2 separate regions of the Homo sapiens genome follow, and region 1 is linked to region 2. The links come from fine-mapping of genetic effects on gene expression. Tissue or cell type: lymphoblastoid cells. Region 2 holds a variant in brackets; the other region holds the start of a gene. All regions are shown on one strand. Distances are between the middles of the regions.

What was found. PIP is the estimated chance that this variant, and not a neighbour inherited with it, causes the effect.
Region 1: it holds the start of LINC03124, and the variant in region 2 is the best candidate, but not a certain one, in a credible set for the expression of LINC03124 in lymphoblastoid cells (GTEx, PIP 0.58).

Annotation. Positions count from the first base shown.
Region 1 is chr2:131,679,274-131,684,656 of GRCh38, reverse strand. LINC03124 (long intergenic non-protein coding RNA 3124) reads right to left here and starts at 2,158. Exons shown (of 10, transcript NR_167889.1): 1 at 1,669-2,158. RefSeq lists a silencer at 2,186-2,235 and an enhancer at 2,606-2,725.
Region 2 is chr2:131,730,363-131,735,745 of GRCh38, reverse strand. The region is part of intron 6 of LINC03124 (long intergenic non-protein coding RNA 3124); the gene reads right to left. It also overlaps the pseudogene NBEAP2. Among named protein-coding and RNA genes, the nearest start is that of LINC03124, 51 kb to the right of the region's middle. The variant TTAAGG/G (reference allele first, on the strand shown) is at 2,760.

The sequences.
Region 1 (5,383 bases), 51 kb after region 2:
GATACCACTCATGTGAAATCTTAAGATGTTTATCTTAATGAAGTAAAAAGCACAATATTGGTTACCAGAGTTTGGGAGATAGAGGGGGAATGGGGAAGGATTGATTATGGAAACAAAGTTATCTTAACATTAAAGGAACAAATCTGAGGTTCTCCTCCTCAGCCTGGTGACTGGAGTTAACAATATCATATTTTTCTAGAGTAAGAAGGGAGAATTTTGAATGTTCTCCCCACAAAAAAAAAAAAAACCTGGATGAGCAAATAGAGATCCTAAGTACCCTGATTTGATCATTACCCAATCTGTATGTATGAAAATGTACCCCTAATTATGGACCTTTATGTTGTGAAAAAAAGTTAACAGAAATAAATACGTATTGCTAAAAATCACAGGGAACCACAAAAGCAATGAATATCTAAAGGAATCCTGAGAAATACAAAGTGAAGACCCACAATCCTTAATATCAAATTACACTGCCAAGTTGTAGTTATACAGCTGATATATGATACTTGCATAAACTATGGACAAAAACAGGGAGGACAAAAACATGATCAACACAAATATGGACACAATCAACTGACTTTGATAAAGAACACTGCAATGTGGAAGGCAGAGAATGAATACCTTTGACAAAAATGATATCCAGATGCAGAAGCGAGAAATAGGACCTTATTTTACACGATGTATGAAAATGAACACCCACTCCCCCAAATTGAAGGCAAAACAAAAGACCATAAACTACAAAATGTTTTTAACTAAAACACAGGATGAGCATATATTTTGGGTCACTTGAATCTCTGCTCACCTTTGCAAAGAGGAAAATAAACACCCTGGAAGAAAAACCTCATTGACAATTAAATGCTTTGTCACTGACATATTATTTTCTTATATGGGTGACGAAAATTACATGCATGAAACGCAAAAATAAATATCATGTTGACTACATCAACATGAAAAGTTTCTGCACATCAAAGAAAACTACTTTCCAATTAAAAAAGCATCCTATAGATTAGGCAAAAATTTCAGGCAATCTTGTAATTCACGAGGAGTTGTCATCTAATATGTACACAAAAAACACTACAAAGTAGCAAAAGCATCCAATCTAATATTTTGCAAAGAACCTGAACAGACAATTCTGCACAGCCATAAAATCGAACAACAAATAAGAGATAAGGTCCTCAAAATCAACTATTCATTAGAAAACTGTAATTCAAAACCACACACAGATAATCTCACACTTATCGAATATTCCTTGATTTTTTTAAAAAAATAGGAGGGGCTGGGAACGGTGTCTCATGCCTGTAATCTCTGCACTTTGCGAGGCTGAGGCAGGTGGGTCACCTGAGGTCAGGAGTTTGAGACCAGCCTGACCAATATCGTGAAACCCCATCTCTACTAAAAATACAAAAATGAGCTGGGCATGGTGGCGGCGCCTGTAGTCCCAGCTACTCTGGAGGCTGAGACAGGAGACTTGCTTAAAACCAGGCAGCGGTTGCAGTCGGCCGAGATGGCGCCACTGCACTCCAGCCTGTAAGACAGAGCAAGACTCCGTCTCAAAACAAAAACAAAAACAAAACAAACCCCAAACCAAAAATAGTAGGAATGCGGGTGTGGTTTTGGAGAAAGGGAAACTCATACACTGTAGGTGGAAATGAAAATTAGGATACACACCATGGAAAACAGCTAAATAGCTGGAGACTCCTCAAAGAACTGAAAATACAGATGCCCCCTGCTCTAGCGAGGTCTCTTTTTAAAGGTGCTGAGGCATCAAAAATAATCCTAGACTCCAGCTCAGAGGCCCCTGGGGCTCCGAGGGACCCAGGTCCCGCGTTTTACCGCCAGCTGTGGGCCAGGGCGCTCCTATACGCTGGACGCGGGTCGGACATTGGCATAGCCTTCCCGGCCGGGGTGCGGACGCTGCAGTAGCCAGGACCGCACAACCGCCCCCAAGCGGAGGACTCGGGCCCAGATGCCCACGAAGAAGTGCGGGCACGAAAACAGGGAGAGGCAGGGAAGGAGCAGGGAGGGTTCCCGGTGGGGTCCACGCCCCCGCCACTGACCGCGGAGACCTGTCTCCTACTCCACCATCACATGGAACCCACCACCGCTCAGAAGCTCGCTCTGACCACGCTGCTGCTGCTGCAGGGGCGTCGCAGGAACTGCAGTCTCAGCTCCGTAGGGACACGCACGCTAGCAGCATCCCTAGTGCCAGGTTGAAGCTCCACCCCCTCTTAAAGGGACCGCGGCTCGGACTTGCCAGAAGCCGCTTAGGGTTGCGGCACAGGCTGAGCCTCTGCCCAGCCCAGGGGACGACGAAAGGCCCCTGGTCTCTCATCCTCCCCAGCTTTCGGGCCCTAGAAGTCGCAGGAGCGCTCCCTGTGACCGCCTCCCGGAGATCGGCTCCCTTTGCCTAGGGAGCGCCCAGGACCTGCCCCTGCCCTCCTCTGGACCTCAGCTTCACCATCCGCAAAGGAAGCAGCCTCGCTAGAGCTCTGGGGGTCCCTCAAGCTTGGCGTCTCAGGATCCAGGGTGGGCTCCCCTGCCCCTCTGCAGAGGGGGCCCAGAGAACCACAGAAAGCTGGGGGCTGGAGGGACAGTTCGGAGGGCAGCAGGGCCTCCCCGGCCTCACTGTCCGCATCTGTCCTGTGGGAGCTCGCGGGCCTCGCTATGGCCCAGGCACCCACAGCCTCACCAGGGCTGCCTGGGTCACCGGGCTCTCCAGGAGGCAGGCAGGGGCCCTGGGGTCCAGCGCTGCCCCCATCTCAACTCTTTCCTTCATCAGGGCCCACGAGGGGCCCTGTGGACTGGACCCAGGCCCGCCCATTCCCAGGGAGAGGCTATTAATTATTTCCTCAATTTCAGAGCCTGTTATTGGTCTATTCAGAGATTCAGCTTCTTCCTGGTTTAGTCTTGGGAGGGTGTATGTGTCCAGGAATTTATCCATTTCCTTCTAGATTTTCTAGTGTACTTGTGTAGAGGTGTTTGTAGTATTCTCTGATGGTAGCTTGTATTTCTGTGGGATCAGTGGTGATATCCCCTTTATCATTTTTTATTGCGTCTATTTGATTCTTCTCTCTTTTCTTCTTTATGAGTCTTGCTAGCGGTCTATCAATTTTGTTGATCTTTTCAAAAAACCAGCTCCTGGATTCATTGATTTTTTTGAAGGGTTTTTTGTGTCTCTATTTCCTTCAGTTCTGCTCTGATCTTACTTATTTCTTGCCTTCTGCTAGCTTTTGAATGTGTTTGCTGTTGCTTCTCTAGTTCTTTTCATTATGATGTTAGGGTGTCAATTTTAGATCTTTCCTGCTTTCTCTTGTGGGCATTTAGTGCTATAAATTTCCCTCTACACACTGCTTTAAATGTGTCTCAGAGATTCTGGTATGTTGTGTCTTTGTTCTCATTGGTTTCTAAGAACATCTTTATTTCTGCCTTCATTTTGTTATATACCCAGTAGTCATTCAGGAGCAGGTTGTTCAGTTTCCATGTAGTTGAGTGGTTTTGAGTGAGTTTCTTAATCCTGAGTTCTAGTTTGATTGCACTGTGGTCTGAGAGACAGTTTGTTATAATTTCTGTTCTTTTACATTTGCTGAGGAGTGCTTTACTTCCAACTGTGTGGTCAATTTTGGAATAAGTGCTGTGCGGTGCTAAGAAGAATGTAGATTCTGTTGATTTGGGGTGGAGAGTTCTGTAGATGTCTATTAGGTCTGCTTGGTGCAGAGCTGAGTTCAATTCCTGGATATCCTTGTTAACTTTCTGTCTCGTTGATCTGTCTAATGTTGACATTAGGGTGTTAAAGTCTCCCGTTATTATTGTGTGGGAGTCTATATTTTGGTTGCAGATGAGTTTATAGTCAAAGTAAAAAACACACGAAGGGCATTCACATTTCCAGGAACAGAAGCATCCTGTCTGGTTTTTCAGAGGTGAAGGGAGCAGTCTGAAGGGGCTGTGGCACAGGTGTGTCTATAATCAAAGCTCACAGCCGAGGCCCTGGGGGAGGTTCAGGTATGCCCCAGGGGGTGCGCCTCATCCAGCACTTCACTGCCAGGGGCCTCATCTTTATTAAATTCTGGGCCTTTTCCTGGGCAATAGTTACACAAGGTGCGTTCAATGAACCCTATGTCCTGTGGCTGCCACCCATTGCAGGGTCACAAAGGTAATGATCACCACCCCCTCCACCTTCTGCTGAGGGTCCGGGTGACCCCCTGGTGGTGTAACCCAGGCCCTCACCCCTAAGGGGTCCTGAGTCTTGCTCACCACGGAGTCCTTGGTCTAGGGCTCCCACACTTGTCCACGTACCATCAAATGCTGTGTATTGAGAGGCGCTTGTGTAGAGCCCCTCCTGCCCCAGGCAGCATAACCCTGCTTCTGCTGAAACCACGGTCCAGGTGGTACACATTTTTCTGCCCGCAGGTCCCATGGAGGAGCAGCCTGAGGACAAAGCAGCACCCAGAGCTTGTTTTTTCAGAGAATTTGGCCTTGTCCTGTCTAGAAGCCCCACAGCTGTGGAAACCAGGACCTCCTGCTTTTCAGAGCCTAGATGTGCAGGATATAGATGCACCTCAGAGGTCCTGGGTGTGAGGTGGAAGGTTGGGGGACACTGGGCTTCCTACTGCTGTGCTCCCATTGCCGCATCTTCTACCTGGTGGGACAAGGCAGCTAGCAAGGGTGACAGATTCACCCAGACACTGTGTCCTCCCACATCCTGACCTGGCACCTGAGCCAAACTGCTGGGTCTGAAGCTCCCAGGAGCATGTGTGTGCTGTGACCAGTGGACCTATGGCATGCGCCCTCTTCCTCCCTCTATGGCATGGTATCAATTCCTCTGATGGTGTCATGTGAGGTCTCGTCCTGATGGGTAGAACTTTCTATAAACCATCCCATGGCCCTGGGGAAAGGCAAGCTCATCCCTTCAGGTTTAGCTGTTTCTGTTAAATGCAACCCTGTTCTTCCCAGGGCATCAGGGCCCGGTGCAGTTGTCCCAGCCTGACAGGAAGTCCCCTTGATGGTTGTGTGGAGGGTGCAGGCTGGGCCTAGCTCATGACCCTGGCAAAGGGCAGGTGAGCCCTGGGGCTGACCACCTGCACTTTCTGTTTGGTGGTGGGAGATGTGGGGCAATATTTCTTGCCTTCCCTTTAGAGAGCATCTCCCAGCCTGCCCAGACCACTAGACCCCTAAAAATGTGACTTGTAGGCAGGTCCTGCCTGGCTCTCTGTGGTGCTTTTCTCTCCCCTCCAAGCATCTGTGACTCCCAGGCCTCCAGCCCTGCTGGCTTCCCCCATCTGAGCTCCTGATGCAGGGGGAGGACTGTACTGTGGCAGGCAGCATGCCGGTTTACACAGTTCTGGGACAAAACTATAGGTATACCTTATTTTATGTCCCAGGTAAA
Region 2 (5,383 bases):
GTACAAAGGCAAAAAGAACTGTCATCATTAAATACCCAATCTTTAATTAGAAGTATAGGAACTTAAACTTTAACTGCATAAAGTATGTATATATGTGTTATTATCTAGAATTCTCCACTTCTTAGGGCACTATTATAAATAACCAAAAAACTAAGTATTTTCTTTCCAAGATACTGTCTTATCATTGAATGAGTCAAGAAGACCACTGGGATTTCTTCCACTCTATAATAAAAAGACTCTGGAGAGAAGATCTCCTCTGGAGAGAAGATAAAAAGCAGAATTTCATCTGTGTATTCTAATTCTGAAAACAACATTCCATTAAATATTAATTGGTTGTGGCACAACCATGAGTTTCTATGGCAGGGAAAAGCAACTTTTTCTACAAAGGGACAGACAGAAAGTATTTTAAACTTTGCTTGCCACACCTGGTTGCTGTCCCATTCTTCTTTGATTTTGTTTGTATCTCAAGAAAAAAACAAACAAACAAAAAACCTTTAAAAATTAAAAGCCAAGAGTCTTTGCCCCCAGCTTACACGAAACCAGAAACAGGGGGAGGGTCAGATTTGGTTCATAGGGTGTAGTCTGCCAAGCCCCGATCTAGGGGACAACCTATGGACCATACACACAGTGCTAGTTAAAAGAATACAAGACAGGATAAGCAAATCCCTGCCCTTTGGGAGATTAAAGCCTATAGACATGCAAACAAAACTGAAAAATGAATTGTATTTAAGAGGTAAGTTCTTATAAAACCAGGTAAGCGTGAAGGGTTGTATATTATTGAGCTTGCAGGTACTTTCAGCATTAAAACAAACCTTTTACTTTGGCTCTGACAGGCCAGAATGTAGACAATGGAAAGCCCAAAGTAGAGAAACCGTAAGGACACTTGAGGTTTTAATTCGAGTTTTTCACTATCTAGAATCCAACTGTGTCACTTCTTCCACTGCTAACATACTGGTAGAAACTAATATAATCTCTTTGTTTTATTGCAATAAGCCATTTAAGTGATTTTCCTGCTTCTGTAATTTCCCTTCAAAATATTGTCAATACTGCAGGCAGACTGATGCTTTTAAAATATAAGCACACATCACTTGTCTGCTGAAAACCTTCCAAGGATTTTTAAGCTGAGTAAGATGCAAAAGCCCAGGCCTTATGTTTGCTTATGAAGGCCAAAATGATTTCTGCCTAACCTTATCTCTTAATATTATTCTGCTTCTACCTACCTCTGCTCCAGACAAATTGCCTTTTCCTTGAACTTTCCTATTCTGCCTCAAAGCCTTTACACTCACTGTTCCCACTGGATAGAAGAAGTTCCCCACATACCTTGCTTGTTCACCTCTTCCTACTAAAATCATCTCTGGACCATCCGGCTCCCCCCTTCCCTACAACTACACTTTCTGTATCCCCAATTTATTTTCTCCATAGCATTTATCACTATGTAATTAATAATAGTGACTATATGTTACACTTCTGTTTAGGGTCTTCTTTCTATATCTAAATAAGGGGTAAACCACATTTTTTAGTGCTTGATGCTGGAATAAATAGAATACAGGATTCGCGGTTTTTTATCTAAAAAACTTAAAACTTTGGCCAAATGTTCCTGTTTTTGCATCCCTAATCATGTCTTTTAGCAATTTTCTTATATTAAATTTAACAGTGAAAGATTTGTTTAATAAAAAGAATAAACTTCCAAAGTTTTAAGTTTCTACCAAACTATTTTATTATTCAATTCATTTTGTAATGATAGATCATACTCTCAAACAAATTAAAACACAGAGAGAAAAATAAAGACTTACGTCATTTGTGTTAACATGCCAAGCCATATCACCATAAGATACCAGTTGTCCATTAACATAACACTGAATTTCACTGTTTCTCCATCGATTGTAAATGTGGACAATGCTGATCATGTACCACTTAAATAAAAAAATTAAATATATCAATATGTAATGTTTGGTTATTATGGTCTAAAATGCAATTATAATATTCATAAAACCCTACAATAATATGCTGACAGGACTATTAATGATCATCTAATACCACTTCCTCAAGTTCCCCCTCCCATCCCTCATTTCACAGATGGTAGAAGTGGCACATAAAGAATATTCATGGAGAAGACAAGAACTACAGCCCCTTGACCTCCAGAGTAATATTCTTTCCACTATACCAAGATTCAAAATTGTGGAAATACAATTCATTTGTGTTCATTCATTTAAAATTTACATTGTGCCAGGCACTGCAGATACCCAAGGCTAACCAGTTCTCCTAGAAGTTATGAGCTATAAAAGAAATATATATGACACAATTAAACAAATGTAGAATTATAAATCATGGTGATTACAGTGAAGAGAAAAAGAACAGTATAAACTGAAAAAGAATAAAGTAGGATTCTACTTTGGATTACATGGTCAGGAAAAGATCTGTCAAAGAAACAACATCTTAGCATTTATAATATGATTTAGGTAGTTTCAATCTCACAATTAAGATTTAGTAAATCCAGTGATAATTATATATTTAATAACTTAATAATGTGTGTTTATTAAGAATCAATAAATGAGTTCATATTAAGTGCCCATTTTATAGTTACTGCTATCAAATAGCATTTTAAGTATCTATTTTAATATGGATGGTTTGATTTCTGAAACAACCTTTAGTCTCTTGAGAGTTAATATCCTAAAATAGAGAATATAGAAATATTTTTTTCTAAAGTATAGAAAAATACAAATGATTTATAAACATTTGAACAAGTATGCTTTCTGAAG[TTAAGG/G]GGGGAAAATTAACTGGTTTCTCCCTCCTACCAAAATATAAAACACAAACTTTGTTCTACAGATTACTTCAATGCACTATTCAATTATTTCATATATATTTTGAGAAATAAAAAGTTATAATAATCCTTAATCACTAAAATATTAGTCATTTCAAGGTATCTAAAATACTTTGAGCAAAATTCAATTTTTTTCATTTCAATTTAGAAAATAAAAATAGGCAGGGCACGGTGGCTCATGCCTGTAATCCCAGCACTTTGGGAGGCCAAGGTGCGCAGATCAACTGACGTCAGAAGTTTGAGACCAGCCTGGCCAACATGGTGAAATCCCGTCTCTACTAAAAATACAAAAATTAGCCAGGCGTGGTGGCATCTGCCTGTAATCCCAGCTACTCGGGAGGCTGAGGCACAAGAATCCCTTGAACCTGGGAGGCAGAGGTTGCAGTGAGCCAAGATTGCACCACTGCACTCCAGCCTGGGCAACAGAGCAAGACTCTGTCTCAAAAAAAAAAAAAAACAAAAAACAAAAAACAAAAAAAAACAGAAAGAAAAAGAAAAAGAAAAAAAATAGTGTGTTAAAGAACTCAAAAAAGTCAGTAATACAAAACAACAGTGTAAAGGTCAAGACATTTAACTGTCTAAAATGCACATCCTTTTTAAGGTTTTTCATTCCAGGAAATCATTAATTTATTGCAAACTAAGTCTTTCACTTGATTCGAAACTGACATATATGTTAGCCCTGATTAAAATTAGAAGAGAAAATCTTTAAAGTAGTCATTTAACCATTGTTTCTAAATATTACAAAATTATCAAGAAGAAACCATAAAAAAGAGCTTCAAATAAATTTAAGGAAAATCTTACAGAATTTTACATGTATAAGAATTAGTTTGCACATATTACCTTCACTGAGTTTGAAACTATCCAACAAGAATGCTATCTACATAACACAGAAGACACAATCTTTATATTCTGGAATAAAATGTGTAATAACTTTACATTTCTAAAGAGAAGAGACACAAATAAATACCTATATATAGGCAAAGATTTCCTGCCCAAAGACAATTTTAAGATAAATACTAGATATATTATTATACTTATTGGTGTACTTACGATAAAAAAAGTACTCATTCAAATAATACTTACTGAGTTCTTACTACTTCAGATAACTTAATGTACTGGGCAGGATAAATTTTACTTCCTAAAGACATGAATTGGGTTCCCAAATTACTAGCTCTATGGCTTTTGGCAAATTACTTAGCATCTCCGAATCTATTTTCATCTCCCTGAAAAAGGGGAATAATAATGCCTACTTTGTGGATTCCTTGTGAATATTATAAACAGATAATACATGAAAACTACGAAGAAAAGTTCCCAATGTATTCAGCACCCATAAATAACACACCATTAACTAAACTACTATTATGATTTTATCTACTATGTCCTCATGATGAGGTTCATTTATGCTAAAATTGATTATTATTTACCTTTCAGAGTATTTCATTCATTCAAAAAATGTACTAAGAGCCTACTTTATGCCAAGTACCCTGTCCCAACCTTGGATCATGGATATATAAAGACAGACAACATATACACACTCAAGGAAGTTTCACTAGAGAAACAGTTATGAGAACAATAGAGAATATCTAAAATACAGATTTGAGAGTAATAAAAGTAATTACTATAAGTAACAGGGAAAGAAAGACAAATAGAGAAGAAAGACTATCATAGAAGTATTCACTAAAAGAATAAAATGAACCATAAGACTATGCTTGAAGGATGAAAAGGAATTGTTCAGTAGACAGGGGTAAAAAAACATTCCAGGTGGAATCTTAATATGATACAGCACAGATGCTTGACAAAACTTTCTTCAGTGTGTAGGTTTAGCAGGAAAAAAAAAAAAAAAAAAAAAAAAAAAAACAGGCGAAGACCAGATTGTAAACAGACCTTTAGGAAACTGGCCTTTGTTTTTTTGCATAACGTGGTATAACTAAATAATTTTGAGCAGGAAAGTTAAACGATCAGCTTCATAGTTAAGGAAAATAGCTGGCAGCAATTTGGAGGTGAGATAGGTAGGCAAGTGTGGACAAAGATAAAACTGAAAAACCACTGCAAAGGTTTGGGTAAGACACCATAAGCTGCTGAACTAAGAAAAAGGCATTAGTAATTTTAAAATGAGGATGGGAATTAACTAACAGAAATGATAGGAAGTGTTAACATATAACAGGGGAGTCTAAGATGGATTCCAATTTTCACTTAGATGGGTAAGGGTACCATTAACTTAAGATCATTAATACAGAAAAATTAATCAGATTTGGAGTTTATCAAGGTTTGCTTTTGGTTGTAACAATAATATATGATAAAATTAAATGAATGCACTGATGAATTAATGAACTGATCTCAGTTAAGACCATAGTACTTATTTATAAGAAAAGTAACTTTTCTCTTTCCTTGATACATCAAACTGTACTCTACAGATAACAGACACAAGTGAGTTTTTCAATGGTTAAAAAAAAGCCTAACTTTTGACCTGATATACATTGACTAAAGAAAATAAAAATAAACTTGGAAACTACCTGTGCATAGTGATATTATGTATATATAGTGAAGTCTGCATTTAGTTTG